Regions from separate parts of the Homo sapiens genome. Here regions 1, 3 and 4 are each linked to region 2. The links come from fine-mapping of genetic effects on gene expression. A gene starts in region 2. Each other region holds a variant in brackets. All regions are shown on one strand. Distances are between the middles of the regions. Region 1 overlaps FAH (fumarylacetoacetate hydrolase). Region 2 holds the start of FAH (fumarylacetoacetate hydrolase). Region 3 overlaps ZFAND6 (zinc finger AN1-type containing 6). Region 4 overlaps FAH (fumarylacetoacetate hydrolase).

What was found.
Region 1: its variant is fine-mapped to the expression of FAH in whole blood (TOPMed, PIP above 0.99).
Region 3: its variant is fine-mapped to the expression of FAH in whole blood (TOPMed, PIP 0.93).
Region 4: its variant is fine-mapped to the expression of FAH in whole blood (INTERVAL, PIP above 0.99).

What each region holds. Positions count from the first base shown.
Region 1 is chr15:80,173,565-80,178,715 of GRCh38, reverse strand. It overlaps FAH (fumarylacetoacetate hydrolase), which reads right to left. Exons shown (of 14, transcript NM_000137.4): 10 at 3,625-3,700; 11 at 1,133-1,179. Among named protein-coding and RNA genes, the nearest start is that of FAH, 23 kb to the right of the region's middle. The variant G/A (reference allele first, on the strand shown) is at 2,421.
Region 2 is chr15:80,150,049-80,155,199 of GRCh38, reverse strand. It overlaps FAH (fumarylacetoacetate hydrolase), which reads right to left and starts at 2,201. Exons shown (of 14, transcript NM_000137.4): 1 at 2,065-2,201. The coding sequence starts at 2,145. RefSeq lists a silencer at 2,213-2,772.
Region 3 is chr15:80,122,447-80,127,597 of GRCh38, reverse strand. ZFAND6 (zinc finger AN1-type containing 6) reads right to left here. Exons shown (of 7, transcript NM_019006.4): 5 at 4,798-4,898. Among named protein-coding and RNA genes, the nearest start is that of FAH, 28 kb to the left of the region's middle. The variant T/C (reference allele first, on the strand shown) is at 3,094.
Region 4 is chr15:80,182,710-80,187,860 of GRCh38, reverse strand. It overlaps FAH (fumarylacetoacetate hydrolase), which reads right to left. Exons shown (of 14, transcript NM_000137.4): 14 at 1,512-1,731. The coding sequence ends at 1,652. Among named protein-coding and RNA genes, the nearest start is that of FAH, 32 kb to the right of the region's middle. RefSeq lists an enhancer at 1,194-1,694. The variant G/A (reference allele first, on the strand shown) is at 1,966.

The sequences.
Region 1 (5,151 bases), 24 kb before region 2:
GCTACCCGGGAGGCTGAGGCAGGAGAATGGCATGAACCCAGGAGGCGGAGTTTGCAGTGAGCCGAGATCGCGCCACTGCACTCCAGCCTGGGCAACGAGCGAGACTCCATCTCAAAAAAAAAAAAAAATTAAGTCAGTTGTGGAATATTTATACAGTGCAACACTATAAGGCAATGAGAAAAATGAGCTGTCACTGCAAAGAGCAACAGGGTTGAATCTCACAGATCTAACACTAAAACAAAGATGCCAGCTACAAAAGAATACATGCTACTTTATGATGCCATTTCTATAAAACTGAAAAACAGAAAAAAAATAATACATGGTAGCAGAGGTCAGGAGAGGAGTGACCTTTGCTGGAGGGAGTGATGAAGTGACCTGGAGGGCCCCACGGGGCTGCTGAGGTGCTGGAAATTTTCCATTTCTGATCTGGGTGCTGGTTGCACAGGGATGTTCATTTTAGGAAAATTCTTCAAGCTGTACATGTATAATATGCACTTTTTTTAATTTTTATTTTTTGAAATAGGGTCTTGCTCTGTCACGCATGCTGGAATGCAGTGGTGTGATCATGGCTCACTGCAGCCTCGACCTCCTGGGCTCAAGCGATCCTCCTGCCTTAGCCTCCCAAGTAGCCGGGACCACAGGTGCATGCTACCACGCCCGGCTAATTTTTTTACTTTTTGCAGAGACAAGGTCTCATTATGTTGCCCAGGCTGGTCTCAAACTCCTAGGCTTAAGCGATCCTCCCACTTTGGCCTCCCAAAGTGCTGGGATTACAGTAATGTGTGCATTTTTATCTATGTATATTATGCTTCAATTAAAAGTTCACTTAAAAAATAAGTCACTCTCATCAATACAGCCCCTGGCAGGACAGGATAAACCAGGAACTAGACCTTTACAGGAACACCTATTTTCCCCCAAGAAAATCACTGGCCACATTTATGCAGCCTCTATCTCGAGAGAACTCTGTGACCCCATGGCCACTCCTAAAAGAGACAGGCCATGGAAGCTCCAGGCCCACAGGCTGACCCATCATCATATCCCAAAAGGAATGCTCTCCTCCTGTTCCTGCCAGGAAGAAAAGTCTCTCTTTCCCTCAATTCTAAAAAGCAGTCTGATCAGCGTCAAAGCTTACCTTAAAATTGGACTTGCATATGGTAGCCGCCTGGCTCATTCCTTCTCCTGTTGGAAAGAAAAGCAATATTGATGAAAACTTAATTCCATGCATCAGGGAGGAAAATAAAAAAAGAATTGTTCTGTGGCTGAAGCTTCCCATTGTCCAACATGATTTCACTTAGAGTCTGTGAAACAATTAGCTCCTAGGACATCAGAGCTGGGAGGTCCAGGGTTGGCCAATACATGCACACAAGTCATCACTTCCTCCTCCCACGCCTACAGCAGGCAGCATTAATTGATCACAGCACATGTTTGCTCTGAGTCCATATGTAGCCTCAGAATCCTTCTTAACACAGTGATCCTGGCACCCGCAAATCCACTAAAGATAGTGTGCCATTTGAAAGCTACTTGTGACCTTTGATCAAGGATAACCTGCTGTCCCCTCAGGAGTCCTCTGGATAGCTGGGTCATCTGTCCCCTGCCGAGCTCCTCCAGTGATGGGCAGTGTGCTACTTCACAACGTACTAAACAATATTTACTAAACATCTACTACATGCAAGGTACCGGGCTGTTGCCGTTCCACTTCTGAACAGCACTAATAAGTAGAAAGCTCCTCTGCTCCCTCAAAACCTGGCTTCCTCCCTTGGTCCTAACTTCCCCTCTGAGGTGGCACAGAACAGGTGTGCTCTTCAGCCATGCGAGGTCTGGGTCTGCCAAGGCTGCTCCTCCCCAGACCCTTTCGCCCAGATCCCAACTCAGAACATCAGAACTGCAAATGCAGGACTACATCTCTGGACACTGTGCTTTCTGGATAATCTTGTCCCTTTTCTACCAGTGGCCTCCCCCGGGCGGGCAGGTTCACCTCTAGGCAGCCAGGAATACTGAGGACAAAACCAGATAGAAAGTATACTCCAAGCACGCATTGTGGGTGGCAGGAGGCCAACCTAGAACTTGTGACACACTTGGATTGAGTCCCAGCCCTGCCATTAGCCAGGTAGGTGGCTCGGGGTGAATCCTTTTCCTCTCTGAGCCTCAGCTTCCTGACCTGGAACCTGAAAGAGCGGGCCCAGCACAGCTTCCCAGAGGGCCCTGGGCAGCCAGGAGGCTCTCTGTGACAGCTCTTTCTCCATGGAGCATCCTGCTCCCATGGCGACAGCTCCTGCAGTGTACTGCGCCTCCTGACAGGAACCACCTCATGAAGGGCCGAGACCCTGGAACTGACAGTGAGACAGACATGGCAAAGCCTGGAGTGTACAGACAGAGCAGACAGAAGAAAGAAATGGAGCTGGCCGGGCATGGTGGCTCAC[G/A]CCTGTAATCCCAGCACTTTGGAAGGCCTAGGTGGGTAGACCACCTAAGGTTAGGAGTTCAAGACCATCCTGACCAACATGAAGAAACCCCATCTCTACTAAAAATACAAAATTAGCCAGGCATGGTGGCGCATGCCTGTAATCCCAGCTACACAGGAGGCTGAGGCAGAAGACTCGCTTGAACCCAGGGGCAGAGGTTGTGGTGAGCCAAGATCGCACCATTGCACTCCAGCCTGGGCAAGAAGAGTGAAACTCCATCTCGGGGGAAAAAAAAAGAAGAAAAGAAAAGAAAAAGGAATGGAATGGAGCTAAAAAGGAGATTTGGCCAGAGTGTGGCTAGGAGGTCTGTGTGTGGCCACCAGGCAAACCCTCCCCATCCGAGGGCCCCCGTTGGGATTGGAAAATGACACCTGACTCTTTCTAGGTACAGACCCTGTCCCAGACCTTTGCATGAATTGACATGTTTGGTCCTCACAACACACCATGAGGTCAACGCCGCTATTATCCCATTTCATAGATGACAAATGAGGACATGGCCAGGTTTGGCAACTTGCCCAAAGTCCCACAGCTGAGCAGCAGAGTCATGGCCTGCAGAGCCAGTCTCTTTATTACCAACGCCCCATTGGGCCTGTTCGCGGAGGCGGGCTGAGCAGCCACAGGGAGATGTGGGCCCTGTCTATGTCAGGGCTGGCCCAGGGTGGGGATCTCGGGTCTGTCTGCAAGACACTCAGGGCTGGCCCATGGTGGGAATCTGGGGTCTTGATGCGCTGGCTCTGTGTGGCCCCAGGGGCTCAGCCAAGCGAACAGACCCACAAGGACATGCTTTCAAACAGGCACTCAATGAAATGTGCCACCCACCACGGAAGTGAGGGTCAGTGGCGATATGTGAGCAGGAGCCAGGCAGCCCCTGGAGAGGCTGGGGAGGGGATTCAAGCAGAAGATGGAAGTCCCGGACTCCATCCTTTCAGCCCTACCACTGAGAGCTCAGTGACAGGGTTAATGCCCTATGGGCCCAGTTAGGTTCCCAGTGAGCACCAGGGTGTCCCCTCCCCTCCCCTCCTCTTTCCTTTAGACGAGCCACACACATCTCCAGGGCTGTAGCACGTGCCCTCACCCTTGCCAAAGCTCAGGAGCCTTCAGGACAAGGCACACAGGCACACATTGCCTCAGAGCTCCTGGCCATGTCAGTCCCCCTACAACATACCTTTCAGGTTAACAGAGAGGTTGATGTCAAATGTGTAGGGCTCGTCATGGCACAGATACGGCAGGGGCCTGGGGTCCTGAGAGGGCAAAGCACAGCACAGAGGTCACTGGCAGGTGGGCTGAGCTCACCCGGCTGGGCCCCCATACCAGCCAGGCCCCCAGCAGCACCTGCTCCCCTAGGCAGAGGGTCTGAGACAGCAGGAGCATTCCCTCTCCAGGGACCCAGCACTGTGTCCCTGGATAGCAGTAGGGGGGATCATACTGTGGGTCTCTAGGAAATGCAGCCAAGGAAGGGGCATCAGCAGGTCAAAGGTCACAGGAGCCAAACCAGAGATGTTCCTGAAAGCCACAGGAGGGGAGAGAAAGGGAAGGTGGGCAGCAGACAGGCCGAGATGGAGAACAAAGCCTGGCCTGTGAGGAAAGGCTGGGCCTGAAAGCGCATTGCAGGGCCCCTGGAAGGCAGAGGGGTCACAACAGAAGTAGACAGCCCTGGCTGGTGCTGGAGCCAGCTAGGGAGGCAGCTTGGATGGCTGGGCCAGAACGCCTGCACTCCGGCCAAAAGCAGTGTTTTCCAAAGCATGGTACATGAGTCACCCACGGGACATGAGATCGTTTTTGGTGATACTAATGGTTATGAAACAGTGTAGCTAGTGATGCCAGTAGGAATATAAAGTTCCCTTCTTAATATATTAAGTTTAAACTGGGAGCCACTCTGAAGGAAAACATTAAGTAAATAATAGTTCAGAGGGGGAATAGTAGTGTTGTACCTAAATGGTGTTGGGGAAGGGCTGGCACAGAGGAAGGCAGGCAAAACCCTGTGATGACCGACCCGGAAGAAGGCAGATGACTGGAGGACAAGCAAAGAGAGGCTGTGGCCTTGCAGCCCTAGGGAGACTAGACAAGGCCGCTGCCAGCTAGAGAGAAAGTCAAGTCCTGGCGACTGAAAATGACCAGGGTGGGCAGGGGGTGCTGTGGTAGGGAGCAGCGAGGAGAGAGCAAGGGATGAGGGTGAAAGCCCCACAGGACTTCACTAGAACTGGCTTGCAAGGAAAGACCTCAGGGTTGTTTGTAGCACAGCAAACATGAGATGACCCCAGAGGCAGAGGAGCATGGGAGAGCAGTGTGGGTGCAGGACCAGCACCGGGTGTTGGTAGAGGCCCCCAGCAAATGCGTGGTGAGATGCTCAAGCGAGGATGTGCAAATGGCTGGGAGCTCAGCCTGGATCCCCACAGGGAGGTCAGAATTGGAGAGGGGCATCGTGAGGACTCAGAGACACTGGAGAACGAGGACAGGTCACATGCCAGAAACCAAGGGGTGAGGGAATGCCAACAAGAGTGAGGGGCCACAGGAAGTCCATGCTGAAGGGGACACAAGGTCATGACACTGACTATCGGGTCACAGGTGACTCTGGCCAGGTGTTGCCAGTGATGGAGTGGGGCAGATTGCAACAGGCTGAGAAGGGAGGACTGGAACCAGGGGTCAAGGCCTAGACCCAGTGGTAGACCAAGCGGTGCCGGGAACCAGAGGC
Region 2 (5,151 bases):
TGGTGAGAGATAACCAAGGCTGGGCCGCAGCGGGGAGCTCATTCAGAGAGGGTGCTTAGGAGGTGACATTTAAGCTGAGTCCCAAAGAGTGAGAAGGGGCCAAGCATATAGAGAGCAGAAGGACGAGTATTCCAGGCAGAAGGAACAACATGTGCTAAGGCCTGAAGGCAGGAAGCTGCTCTTAGCACATCTCAGAGACTCAAAGGCAGCCAATGTGGCTGGAGAAAGCAGAGGCCAGGAGGCAGCAGCACAGCCAGACCACGGGGACTTTAACAAGGCACCCGGCAAAACCAGCTCCACACTACTACAACCCCGTTCTCAGAGGCCACCACCCCTACCTTCACAGAGAGCACCCCTGTACACCTTACTAGTCCATCAACCAGAAATGGAAGGAAGGCGTCTCCTGTGTCTTTGATGCCAACTCGGAGCCCAGGCAAAATCTGGACCAGAGTTGGGGTTCATAAGCATTCGCTGAATAAAAAAAAATGAATAAAGTGATGGCAGGATTCATTGTTATTCCACTCAAATTAGGAAAGGCTGACTGCTGACATGGGGGAAGGGAGGTTTTGCCTTGGCAACTAGTCTTGCCTGGCAAGGCAGCCATCACGGTTGGAATGTCCAATGCCTGCAGAGAAAGCTTCAGAAGAGGCTTGTTCAGCTGGAAGGCCAAAGGGCCAACTCTCCACCCCCAGCACTGTATCAGAGGACAGCGGAATGGGGCTCTCTCTTCCAGACATCTGTAGTGGCTGCCCTGCACATTCTGATGTTGAAACAGCGGGACATGGTGTCTGAAAACACCTAGCCACACTCTAACGGATATTAATTCGATTCCCCTGAGAAAGCAAGTCAGAGCTCCCTACTGGGGTGTGCCTGCCTCTCACAAATGTTTCTGTCTAATGGATTTGTGCTCCCAGGAAAGGTGAGGGAGGACACATCTGCCGAGGGCAAAGTGTTTGAGGAGGGCAGAGGGAGGGCTCTGTCTGCAGAAAGGTTGTTGGCCATCACAAGTTAAGATTTAATGTGCCTCAGATTGTGTCCTCCAGGGGATTGAGTGTCCACTTTCTGTATCCTTGCAACATCTGGTCAGCCCGGCCAGATGTGAAACCACAAGTTGACTCTTCTAGACCAAAGCACTTACCGCAGACAGGCCCACAAAAGGCCAGCCACTTGCATCCAATGACAAGCCATGGGGGAAGGAGGGAACCCCACTTTCCAAGAAGAAGCCAACTGCCAGGCCCCTCGTTTAGCAAACATTTCCTGATTCTGGGGTTCTATGGCTTACAGAGATGAATCAGGAGTTTACCTTTAAAGTTGGGAGCAGAAATCTAAGCCAAAAATATCATCAACAAATCCAAGGGAATCTGCTTTTCCAACCTAGGGAACCTCTTATTATCTATTTGCTGATAAACCCCCAGTTTTCAAATACTTCTTTCTACCAATCAGACTACACTGACTTAGTCAAAGTTTGTTTCCCTGCCCTCTTTCTTCTGATCAGTAGGGGAATGCCAGGGAGCCCACACCAGGAGCTGAAAGAATTTCAGCTATAGGCAGAGACACTTGCCATCTTAGATCTCACAACTCTAAGCCAAGAAACGCGCGTGCCCCTCTGACCTGCTACGCATACCGGGTTATCATTTCCCGGGTTCTAGGGTTAGGGGCTATCCAGCGAGATGAACCACCAGCCCTGACCTGGCCTCTTGGGCGAGAGAAACACACCGCAACCACCTCGGAGTAGGCAGCATGCCTGTGTGCTGCAGCTTCCGGTAACAGAATCCTGCTTGCTCTGCTTGTCTGGGAGAGTGACACGATTCATTTCATTTTGCATTTAATTCTCAGCAAACCTGCGGACAATGAGGCTGAAAAGTTAAACAACGTGCACAGCTAGAAAGTTACGAGGCGGGACTCGAGCCCATAGGCACTCTCACGGAACGAATCTTAAGAGAAAAATGGCACAAGCCTCCATCCCGCCCCTCATTCCACTCCATTCCACTCCACTCCACTCCACTCCACTCCACTCCACTCCACTCCCTCCCCGCGCCCGGACGCCAAAGCCCCACTGCTCACGTCGCCTCTGGTCGAGAAGACGCCGTAGGGCAGGTTGTGGATGGGGAAGTCGGAATCCTCGGCCACCGGGATGAAGGACATGCTGAAGAGCACCCGGCACGGCTGCGGGCCTAAGGTGGCGTGCGGAGAGCAGGACTGAACTCGGCCGCTGTGGTCAGGCCCGGCCCCGCCCCCCTGCCCGCCCCCACGGCCTGTCCGGGTGACACAGCAGGGACCCCGGAGGCTCCTACCTGACTTTTGGTCTCACCGTGAACACCCCGCCCCCGAACCCCGAGCCCTGCCCCTCCCCCCTACCCTGACCCCCGCCAGCTCCAGGTCCTCCACAGTCTCGCCCGCCCTTCCAGAGCCCCGCCCCGCCCCTGGCCCCGCCCCCGTGGGCCTCAGGTCCTCCAGTCTCTCCTCCCTCCCTGAGCCCCGCCCCTCCCCTTGCCCCGACCCCGCGAGCCCCAGGTCCTCCACAGTCTCACCCTCCCTCCCTGAGCCCCGCCCCTCCCCTCGCCCCGCCCCTCCCCTCGCCCCGCCTTGCAAGCCCCAGGTCATCCAGTCTCTCCCTCCCTCCCTGAGCCCCGCCCCTCCCCTGGCCCGGGTACCCGAGAGTCCCAGGCCCTCCAGTCTTGCCTCACTCCCCGAGCCCCGCCCCTCCCCTGGCCCCGCCCCCGTCCTGATCCCCGCCCTGTCCGCGAGTCCACGTGGGGGAGATCTGGTTCCAGCCCCCGCTCGGGGCAGCTAGCTGGTCCTACCGAGAGCAAACCCCAGCTTAGCATTTAAGGCTCTGCCCTGCATGACTCCAGCCTCGCTCGCCCCGGCTGCTGCCCTGCTCTTCAGCTCAACAGAACTCTTGTCCGCTTCCTGGAAACACTTTCTCCCCAAGAGCTGCTCCCTGAGCTTCAGAAGAACACCCAGTCGCGTCCTTTCTGCCTTCATACCATGATGCTCCGTCCAGCTATGACACTTCCACTTGTATGTCAGAGAAGGGGACAGTTAGGCCTGTTTGGAAGGCTTCAATTAATGAGAATTAATATTCTAAAAAATATAACTCACCTGTTTCACATGCCAGTAGTAAAATGACGTTGACAAGATGCTCAACCTTGGACAAGTTACTTAAACTTTCTCTACCTCAGCTTCCTTCTCTGTATAATGTTGATGATAATAGTTCCTACTTCACAAAGTTGATATAAGAATGGAATGAATTAATATTTGTGAAGCACCTAGAATAGTGCCTGGCATATACAGGTTATGTGTGTGTGGAAAGAGAGAGAAGGGAGGGAAAAAGAGGAAAGGAGGGGAGGGGGATAAAGGAAAGGAAAGATAAAAGAGAAATAGGAGAAGAGAGAGAGGGAGAAAGAAAAGAAGGAAGACAGGAAAGAAGGGAAAGGCAGACTATCTTAGGGTGGGTTCAAGGTGTTATCTAATCACTCATGTGCAGTCAGCTGCAGTTTTTTGAGACCATGCCACAGCCAGGACACTTGGAACACACCGGAGAGTGTGTCGTTGTGTTATTGTTGGTGTGAATGATTCAGGTACACTTTTAAACAGCCAGGATGCCGGCTGAAATCTAGAAAAGTAGACGATAGTCTGGGCAAGGGTTCCCTGAAGATCCTTGAGGAATGTGACACAGTGACTGCTGAGTTAGGGAGGCTGCTCCGCATTTCAGCTTAGGGAGAAGAGGCTGGAAGATGGCAGGATAATGTGAGCTAAGTGGGCTTGAAACCAGACGGCTTGAGAGGAGCGAGTACGGCAAGCAGGGCCCGCTGTTGAGCCCCCCTTCCTAGCCCCTGAGATCACTCTGGTGCCTGTCCACCAGGCGTGACCAGTGATCATCACCCAGTAAGGAGTGTAATCTGGGCACAGCCTCTTGGCTCTCATCTCCTGCCCTGAGTGGCTCTGCCAAGGACTGGCTTCAGTTCTTTTAAGTCAGCCCTGGGGAGGGAATGAAGGTGGTCTGATTTGTTCTGGTAGGTTCCTGAAAGAGGAAAAGAAGAGGAGAGTATCCCAACTTGGTGGCCTTATAAAGAGGCATTCCAGGGAGCACTTGATACCTGCCTAATTCAAGCTAGTCCTCAGCTGCAACGCAATGAATTATTTCCACGTTCTGTAGTTGCCCTGCCCCTTCCCATTAAAACCACGAGCTTTCTTATTCCATGTGCAACTCTGTCAATACCCAGCAAAACACCTGGCACAGAATAGGTTCTCCATAAATACATGTCATTAATATAAAACTGTTGACCAAAAGGAAATGAAGCAATAACTAATAAGCCCATGCCCTATGCCAGGCCATGGGGATACACCAGCAACTCACATCTTTAATTCCTGTTTTTATGGAGCATGTGTTGTGTGGGGGATGCTAGGCCAGGAGCTTCTACTGAATACATACAAGTTAACAAAAGCCTAAATGATAAAACCCTTGGAGAAAGAAAACCAAAGTATTTTAGGGAAAGGACATGGGGCAGATGTATGTGTAGGAAAGGGTGTGGGGATGAGATGGCTAAAGAGGGAGTAAGATTTCATAGTTTTAAAATAGACTTAACCAACCCACTAATTATACACAGTGTCTGAAAACGCCAAAGCTGTTCTCTATTTGGAAAACAGCATTTGAAATAACTTGCAAGTATACTATATTTTTTCTTTCTCATTTTTTGGAAGAGAATGTGTTGGCCACGTATATCACAACAATTATTTAAAAAGAATTTTAAAACAAAGAGATTGCCCATAATCCCACCAATGTAGTCTTCTCATTTTCATGTTTTTTTTTCATTCCATTTGTATGCACATGGCTTTTCCATCCTTATAAACTTTACATAGATGCAATTTTTCAGTCTTTCCCTACCTTATTCTCTTGAATATTTTTCCTTGAGGCCCAATAGGCTTTATTATGATCATTGTCATTAGCTAAGGAAGTCGCAATGTTTTAGATGGTAATAATAACGGTTCAATGAAGAGGTGCATGCACAGAATGTTTTCCTTTTCCTTGACAATTATCTAAGGAAGATTCCTGACTCAAAGAGTATGAACACTTTCAGGACTCGCAGTGAGTTTCAGCATCTCCAGCAATGAAGGCTGGTTTGGGTCTCTGTAGCACCATATTTA
Region 3 (5,151 bases), 28 kb after region 2:
TTTTTTTTGAGATGGAGTTTTGCCCTTTTGCCCAGGCTGGAGTGCAGTGGCACAATCTCAGCTCACTGCAACCTCCACCTCCCAAGTTCAAGCAATTCTCCTCTGCCTCAGCCTCACGAGTATCTGAGACTACAGGCGCATGACATCACAGCCAGCTAAGTTTCATATTTTTAGTAGAGATGGGGTTTCACCATGTTGGCCAAGCTGGTCTCCAACTCCTGACTTAAGGTGATCCGCCCGCCTCAGCCTCCCAAAGTGCTGGGATTACAGATGTGAACCACCGCACCCGGCCCTGTTGAGCATCTTTTCATGTGTTTATTGGAAACTTGTATATCTTTTCTGGAGAAATGTCCACTCAAATCCTTTGCTTATTTTTAAAATGGGTTTTCTATTGTTGAATTGTAATTATTTATATATCCTTATCACATATATGATTTCAAAGTATTTTTTCTCTCATTCTGTAGGCTGGTTTTCCACTCTTTTATTTTTTGAGAGAGGGTCTCATTCTGTGACCCAGGCTGAAGTGCAGTGGTGCGTTAATGGCTCACTGCAGCCTCAACATCCCAAGTTCAAGTGATCCTCCCACCTCAGCCTCCCTACCCAGTAGCTGGGACTACAAGCGTGCGCCACCACACTCGGCTATTTTTTGTACAGATGGGGTTTTGCCATGTTGCCCAGGCTGGTTTCAAACTCTTGAGCTCAAGTGATCTGCCCACCTTGGCCTCCCAAAGTGCTGGGATTACAGGCATAAGTCACTGCACCTGGCTGTTTTTCCACTCTTTTAAGCAAAAATCTTTATTTTGATGTAGCTCAATTTATCTATAATTTCTTTGGCTGCTTGTGGTTAAGGTGTCATATCTAAGAAACCACTGCCTAAACCAAGATCACAAAAATGTATACCTGCTTTAAGAGTTTTATAGTTCTCTTATATTCGTTTTAGGTCTTTGATGTATTTCGGGTGAATTTTTGCATATGGTATGACATAGGAGTCCAATTCATTCTTTCGAATGTGGATATGAAGTTGTTCCTGCATCATTTGTTTAAAAGATTACTCTTTTCCCATCAAATGATTTTGGCACCATTGTTGAAAGTCAATGGCCCATAAATATAATAAGAGTTTATTTCTGGACTCTCAATTTTTTATTCCACTTACCTTCATGACTATCCTCATGCCGGTACAACACAGTCTTGATTACTGTAGCTTGTACTCAATTTTGAAGCCAGGAATTGTTAGTCCTCCAACTTTGTTATTTTTCAAGATACCTTTGGCTATTCTCACTCATTCTTTAGAATCAGAAGAAATGCCTGATTTTTAAAACCCATACAGCTTTCCTAAATCAGTCCAAAGAGACTGTCCCCCTCTGATTTTTCTGAACCAATGATTTGACAATTCAACTTTGTATAAAGTCAGAAACCCTCAGAGTAGGAAAGAGCCTGAGAATTCTAGTTCATCCTGTCACTAAGCACAGCATTCCTCTCTCTATATGGTCTCTAACATCAACTCATCTTTCCTAGAATGCTTCAGTGATGTAGACCTTACCATCTTAACATATGACATCATTCGAGTGTTGGAAAGCTTCAAAATTCTCTCTTACTCTAGGCCTCCTACAACTCCCAAATCACTTGGGCAATATAAAGAATATCTTCTGCAGCTTACAAAGCTCATCCAACCTCCATTATCTCAGTATCTTTTAATACCCTGTAAGAGGGACATTCTTATTCTCTTTTAAGAGTAATGAAAGTAAGGCTCAGTGAAGTTAAGCAGGCATACCAAGATAGGAAAATAGAACTTATGAATCCAAATTCAGTATTTTTCTACTATGACCCAAGATCTGAGGGACTAAGAGGTTGACCAAATTTAAGCATATTCTTCAACAGTTTTAGAGTGTACCAAAATGCTTAAAGTAGTTCTTTTAAAAGCTAGCATTTGTGAACTGGAAATTTGACTTATACTCCTGAGTGACACTATGTAAGTAAGGTACTGCTATATTTTTAAATCAAAAAGAACAACTAAGAAACATGCTTCAATATGCTAAATTCTCAATGAAACATAAAAATTCTTCAGAGCCATGTGGCCAATATGAAAGCAGTACCACCAACCTGGTGGCAGCATATCCTAATTATAAGCAGAATACATGTAGAGAAAAAGTTGTTCTGAATGTTCCAATTACAAAATGTTACAAACTTCTGGCTTAGACATATAGCTGCTACTCATATACCTTCTTCCATTTGGGATGGTTTTCCTATCTATATAAATTTCCCTTGAGGGAAGCATATGGAGTGAGGAAGAAGAAAACTGATACCTGGGTAGTTTGCTAAACGAGTTGATCCTACCCTGAGAACTGAGGGAGATGTATGTGTTAACAGGAATACACATATCCACATCCTAGTCCAACAAGCTCCACAACTGTCTAATCATAAGAATACTGGCCTCTATGAGTTAGGTCCCTGGATTCCAGTTCCAGCTTTTATGACCATATGACTGACTCAAAGAGACTTTTTCTGTCTCTTTTCATCCATCTATTAAATAAATGGAAAAAAAGTTATTTGAATTTGATCAATAGGGAAATCGTAATTGCATGTAAGTGTATGAGTGTGTGCACATACAGAATATACACGTACATATATACAAACATACATGTTTATATTTGTGTATGTTTATAATAAAAAGGGTATTCTTAATTCAATAATATGTTAAATTTTTTTTAAAAACTAGGTTGTTAAGAGATTTTACATACTGGAACCTAACCCTCCTCTCTTAAAACTGAGATGAAACTTATACCTAATTTATCAAAGATTTGCTGCTGATATTACGAATGCTAAGTTTTTTAAAGGTACTTACAAGTTAATACTGGTTTAACCTAAAAGTCATTCAAATCATGTATGAAAAATGGGGCCTATACAATTTCTCCTAATATGGCATCAGGACCACCTTTTGAAGTGATATACTCAGGGCTAAGTGGAGAAAACGGTATTGTTTTCCATACACCACAAATGGAAATAAAAACACTTTTATAAATAAATGGTATAAAAACACTTCCTATGTGTTATGATAGTTCACCAATCTATGACCTTTATTCTTTGTCAAACTTC[T/C]GTAAATACTATTGTATTCTTAAGCTTTATACATTTTTTTCACTGCCAACATTCTAAATTTTTTTTTTTTTTGAGACGGAGTCTCGCTCTGTTGCCCAGGCTGGAGTGCAGTGGCGCCATCTCGGCTCACCGCAAGCTCCGCCTCCCAGGTTCATGCCATTCTCCTGCCTCAGCCTCCCCAGTAGCTAGGACTACAGATGCCCGCCACCACGCCCAGCTAATTTTTTGTATTTTTAGTAGAGACAGGGTTTCACCGTGTTAGCCAGGATGGTCTCGATCTCCTGACCTCGTGATCCACCCGCTTCAGCCTCCCAAAGTGCTGGGATTACAGGCGTGAGCCACCGCGCCCAGTCTTTTCCTTATTTCTTTAAAGATTCCTCATTTCTGCCCTTCCTTAAATTTTTTGATGTAACTAAGAAATAAGAATTATTCACTTAAAACATTTAAGAATTTATCACAATATGCTAGATGGGACTAGAATATTTACGTTGACCACACAGAATATTCTTTTGTTACGGCAAAATCTACACAAACAAGCAAACTGGTTCAAGTATTTGCTGGGTATGAAAAAAAAGCAAGAGGAACTACCTAGCTTATTTAAATTTGTTTATTTAATTCTTGAGACCGGGTGTGGGGGAATTGCTCTGGTGCCCACCCAGGCTGGAGTGCAGTGGCACGATCATAGCTCACCGCAGCCTGAATTCCTGGGCTCAAGCAATCCTCCCACGTCAGCTTCCTGAGTAGTTGTGACTACAGGTATGTGCCGCCTCACCTGGCTAATTTTTTGTTGTCCAGGCTAGTCTCAAACTCCCAGACTCAAGCGATCCTCCTGCCTTAGCCTCTCAAGTAGGTAGGGATTATAGGCACAAGCCACAGTGCCTGGCCTAAATTAAAAATTTAGCCATCTTAAACTAGGATTGGCAGATGTATCTGTTACCATCATGTGAACACCATGTGCAATGAAGTTTCACTGGTAAATCATCTCACAGGCAGAATGACACACTGCTCTTCATTAGGCTTATCTTTCCAGAGATCCTTCCTTGTTACCATGTTATTTCCACACACTGCTAGAATACAACTAATTAAGCAGAGATTATTTAATAGCCTCCAAAATGGCCTACTCCGCATTCTCTCTCCCTACTACGAAAGCCTTCATACAAATTTTCAAGTCTTCCTAGATCACTTTGAGCTTCATAATGGGGATATGAAGAGCATGGGCAAGACACGATAGATACCATGCTGTGAATACGAGCAACTGAATGTGACTATTGCACACATGGGGAAGAAAAAAGGAGAACTGCCAGGCACGATGGACACAGTCTCTCAGATAATGAGTCAAAACACAAAAGAAAGAGATGCCCCTCAAACCAGCAGCCCCAGTTTTCTTACAGAGTAGTATATAGACTGAAACGGCCAAAATAGTAAAAGAGAACAGTGTAACACTGCCACACATTCATTTAATTATATTTTCCAAACTAAACAAATTTTGAATTTGCAACATTTATGCTGATGATAAAATTACATGTAAGTGTGAAATGGCTCCCCAACATGTTAATTAAATACTTAAAGATATAAAGTATTGTGTTCATAGGGAAAACAGAAAAACATGTATTTTAAGCTGGCAATTTTTTTATACATGCACCTAGGATAGTGTCTGGCCTATAATACTCAAATAACAAAATACATGCTAGTTCATATACAAACCCTGCACATCTTCTGTTTCAGGTACTGCTTTGTCCACAGATGTACTGTCCAATTGAGAAGATGCTACAGATTCTGATAAAAGTGACTGATTTGATACAGGGCTAGAAAAGCAAAATATTTCATTTTAAAAGGTGATCTCTACACATGAATATTAACTAATGTGACACAGTAAGAGTTCAACATATCTAAGTAGATAATTAAGATGAGAACACAGACATACTTTTTTTTAATAACTTAAACATAATCATAGAGCTTTAAAACTAGAGACTAATTTGGACCAGAATTTTACTGCCTTGGAAACAAAGCAACAGTGTATATGTCCTTTGTGTATTTCAAGTACCACATGAATTCACT
Region 4 (5,151 bases), 33 kb before region 2:
TTTGTATCATAATGTAACCCTGAGACTAAAAACCACATACCGACGATGGCAGAGCAGAGGTATCTTTAATGACACTGTGCAGCTGCCACACTAACTCCAGCCTTCCTGACCCCAGGTTGCTTTTATGTAAGGAAGAAATACCAGCCTCCTTGATGTTCTTTAGAAATGATAAGCATATTCCATCCTCAGGGCTTTGCACGGGCTGATTCCTGTGCCTGGAGGACTCTGTCCCCAGATATCCATCTGGCCTGCTCCCCTCACTCCTTCAGCTCTCTAGCAGAAATGTACTATGGGATTAAGGCCTTCTCTAACCACATTAACAATAGCATCCACATCTCCCAATTGTCCATAAAACTTATTACCATCTGTCATACCACATGTCTTTTCCTTATCTGTTTATTGTCTATCTCTTTCCACTCGAATGTAAGCTTCAAATGGGCTATTCTGTTTACTGCTGTGCCTCTCATCCTTAGAACAGTGCTTAACACACAGAAGGTGCTCAATAAAGATTTGTTGAGTGAATGAATGAATGGTGCGATCTGACGGATGGGCTCTGCATCCTCAACTATCCCCCTAGGCCCCGGTATAAGGCTCATCAGGCCCAGGAAAGGTCGCAGGGCATACTCCCCTGCTGTCATCACCAAGGAACTAGGGTAGAACCAGGGCTGCCTGTGTGCAATGGGTTGGGACAGAAGAGATGGGGCAGAGCTCACTCTCCTGACTCTGGTGGGCTTGCAAGAGGTGAAAAGCTAGGTCCTTTTCTGCCATCATCACAGTTCAGGTGCTCACCCATGACTCGGAGGCTCTTCCCAAGGCTTACAGTGTGGAGACGCAGCCACGGGGCCCATGAACCAAGCCTACAACCCATATGTGCTCATCCGTTAGCCCCAAGAAACACTGGACATGCAGGGTGCTGTGATGGGCAGTTTTCTGTATTAATTTGGCTAGACTAAGGTACCCAAATATTTGCTCAAATGCTATTCTACATGTTTCTAAGAAAGTACTTTTTAGGTGAAATAAAACTTAAATCAGTGGAGTAAAGCAGAAGACCCCCACAGTGTGGCTGGGCCTCATCTAATCAGTTGATGGCCTTCACCAAACAATGACTCACTTCCCAGAGGAAGAGGAAATTTTGACAGCAGACTGCTTCAGACTCAAACTGCAGCTCTTCCTTGGGTCTCCAGCCAGCAACCCACCCAGCAGGTTTTGGGCTTGCCACCCTCCAGAATCCCAGAAGCCAATTTGCTTAAAATCAATCAATCAATCAATAAATCGATCTCTTTCTCCTTGGTTCTATTTCTCTGGAGAGCCCTGACTACTACAGGTGCCAGTCTCTTTTCAAATTCCATGGAATACCAGGAGGCCTGGGATGTCTAATAAGAAAATCCCACAAAGACCCCTGACCTCACTAATAAGAGTGAGAAAACATATTAATGAATATCTGGCAGGGAGGCTTTACACACCTTGACCCACTGGATCAAATCACGATCATAAGTGGACACAGCTGCATCTGCGGCAGTGCAGGCCTCAGAGCACAATGGCTTTATTTGTCACTGAATGGCGGACCAGGCCTACAGCCCGAGGGAGGACCCCAGTCACAGGGTTGAAAGGGGTGCTTGAGCCCTTTGTTTCCAGAAGAGCAGAGAAAATCTCATGATGGCAGGAGAGCAGGCAGCACTTTTCCAGCACACTGGCCAAAGCCGATGCGGTAACCATCCCCCTGGCAGTACCCTGGAACAGAGGAGGACAAGGATCAGTCACAAAGTTGCTGGGCTCACCGGAACCAACACCTAGGCAGCGGCAGTGCCCGTCAGCACACAGCTGGCCCGAGGCAGGAAGGTGCCATCAGAATCACACACACATATCTTAAACACAAGAATAACCCTCCACGGAAGCTGGGCAGAGTTGCACGCAGGAGCCCTTGGACTAGAACCCGGGCCCACCCCACAGCCAGGGATCCTCAGA[G/A]GCACTGCAAGGCTCAACAGCTTTCCTGTGGCTAATATGGTTTGGCTCTGTCCCCCGCCAAACCTCATTTTGAATTATAGCTCCCATAATTCCCATGTGTTGTGGGAGGTACACAGTGGGAGATAATTGAATCATGGAGCGGTTTCCTCCATACTGTTCTCATGGTAGTGAAGAAGTCTCATGAGATCTGATGTTTTTATAAGCGGTTTCTCCTTTCACTTGGCTCTCATTCTCTCTTGCCTGCCACCATGTAAGACATGCCTTTTGCCTTCCACTATGATTGTGAGGCCTCCCCAGCCATGTGGAACTGTGAGTCCATTAAACCTCTCTTTCTTTATGAATTACCCAGTCTCAGGAATGTCTTTATCAGCAGTGTGAAAACAGACTAATACAGTGGTCAACTCTCCCCACATGGGTTTGGGTTCAAATCCTCGCTCTGCCAATTAGCCTGAAGCCAGAATGCCTGAGGTCAAAGCCTGGCTCCTCTACTTATTGGCTCTGTAACCTTGGGTCCCTCTAGACCTCAGTTTCTTCATCTGTGCAATGGATCTTATGATAGTGCCCACCGCACAGGACTGCTGCAAGGATGATGGGAGCAAATGCATAGAAAACTCTGAGAACAGCCTCCAGTCCCTATTTGAAATTCCCTGTAAGTGTCAGTCATTACAACCATTATGAGCTGGGTGGCTGGGAACAAGCTGTTTGACTTCAGAACTCACCTCCCTCATCTGCAAACAAGAAAAACAACGCTTATCTCTCAAGGTTGTAAGGATTAGACTAAATATTTCAGTGAAATTCCCAGCACATCTCAGAAACTAATAAATATTAGTTTCCTTCATTTAATTCCATTTCAACAAGGATGATGGAAAAGCAGAGAGAAGCCCATCTCTGCCCTTGAGAGGGGTCCACTTAGAGGGAGTGGGAGGTCCAGACGAGAGATACAGAGAAATGCTTACAAGGTGCTGAGCGAGCAGCATGGAGGGAAAGGGAGCAGGAAGGGGGGATATCTTAGCTGGGCCTTGACGGGTAGCTAGGAGTTCATTAGGGAAGACACATGAAAATGCCATTCCAGACAGAGGGAAGAACACGTGCAAAGGCTCAGACACTCAGGCACGAGATGCATTTGTCACATCTGTTCAGTGAGGCTGTCCTTTGGGGGGCCCTAAGAAGCCCCGTGACCCACATGCTGACAACATGCAGGGATGCCCTTTGTCGAGAGCAACGACCTCACCTATTCTGTTGCTCATTTTCATTATTTTCTGTCAGTCTCTTTTCCACCTCAATGCTCAGAAATATCCACACCACTGGGGTGAAAAAAAAAGCCTATTAAAGTAAAACTGGCTCCCAGCAGAAATTTATTAAACATCTATCAAAACAACTAACTCGGAACTGCAGCATTTTTAAAGAGTCTCTCCCAACCATGGTCCTGAAGGAGAAGGGTCACTGCTTCTACACCCTGGGACCCCTGGTCAGCCTTGCGCAGGAATTCTGTGCCAGGCAAGGCAAGCAATAATGCTGGGGAGAGAAACTGGAATAAACAGAGACACAGGAACACCAGGTGAAAGACGCCACCACTGAGAGACGCAGGGCAAGAAACGAAAGACTTTTGCTCAGATATTGTTTCCAAATAATGTCAGATACCAAGAAAGAATCCACAACAAATCATAACTATCAACAAATCAAAGATCTGAAGGAGAGTGAGAAATGCATGTGTCCAGCAGTGCAGAGCCATCCGTGCAAATGCCTGCGAGAACACATCCTTGCAAGTTGCAAGCTCAACACCAGATGGGGTTTGTGAGCGAGACTAGGGGATGGATGAGTTAAACCAAGACGATCAGAGATTTTTGTTGATATTTTTGGTTTGTTTACTTCACCTGTTCTCTTGCTGAACATTTTGTGGTTTTTGGACTCTCTCAGAAATGAGAATTTCATCGCGCCATTTAAAGAGGCAACAGGACACAAGGGTTCAGAGCACAGCTCCTGGAGCCCAACTGCCTGTGTTCAAACCCTGGCTCTACCCTTTATCGCCTGTGTGATCCTGGGTAAGTATGCATCTTTCTGGGCCTCAGTTTCCACATCTGAAAAATAGAGACAGTAAGAGTAGCTGCCTTGTTTGGAATAGAAAATGTATTGCAGGTAAAGCACTTGGCACAGTGTCTGGCCTGCAGTAAGTGCTGCGGCGTTGGCTGATGCCAGCACTTCTGAATGTTCTATCGCGTTTCCAATGGTTAGAAATTGATTTGGGGAAGGAGCATCCGTGAAGAGCAAGCAGGGAAATGAGAGGCAGCCATAAAGGCATCTGAGCAGGTGCAGAGAAGGAGGAGGAAAGCCGGGAAGAGCTGAAGAAACCATGTGTGGCTTTCAAGCAAGAAAGCAGCTCAGCAGGGCCACGTGACCAGTGAAGTCGTAGAAGGTGAGGGCAGAGCCGTCCGCCAATGCGGGGAACCTTTGCACAAGGTAACACAGCTGACACACCACCTCCACCTGCCCGCTCCTCTGCTTACCCCCTGCTTAGCCCAAATTCTAGCAATATGCATTCTTTTGAGTTTTTCAGTGGTCCCCTTCTGTATGAAATTCTCTTTTTTCTTTTTATGAACACATAATGTATGCCTCTCCTCTTAGCAAATTATAATTCTTCTTTCTTGGTTCCAGGGGATTTTGCCCATCTGTTCCCATTTCCCTCTTCACTTGCCAACATGTGCTTCTTCAGATCCAAGGAACTGCCTTTCCCTGAATTCCTCTGCTGGCCTCCAAAAATCCTTCCGGAGTAAGGCGTTGTATACACAAACAAACATGGAAATGACTCTCATGGCATCTTGGCTCCTTTCTCCTTCCTTCTCTGGCTCAAATGTCAAGAACACATGTGCATTCCAACTGCTAGATACCAGCCTCCTTTCTCCCAGGCCCTGGACAGCTGCCTGGTCTAGCATGGCTTAGTCAGGGGCCCTTATCACACTGACAACAGAGAGTTAAAGCCATCATTTTCTCTTCTGCCACCATCTCTTTCCTTCCTTTCCCCAAATCAAAACTTCAGAAAATGCTTTCACTCAATCCACAGAACCGTGACCAAAGGCCTGCGGTAGGTCTGGCAAGCATTGCAGAAAGACTAGAAACAAACTTGGCAGGGGAATCAGAAGACCTCAGTTGCAGACTGGCTTCCCCAGTTGTGGGACTTTTGTCAAGTAA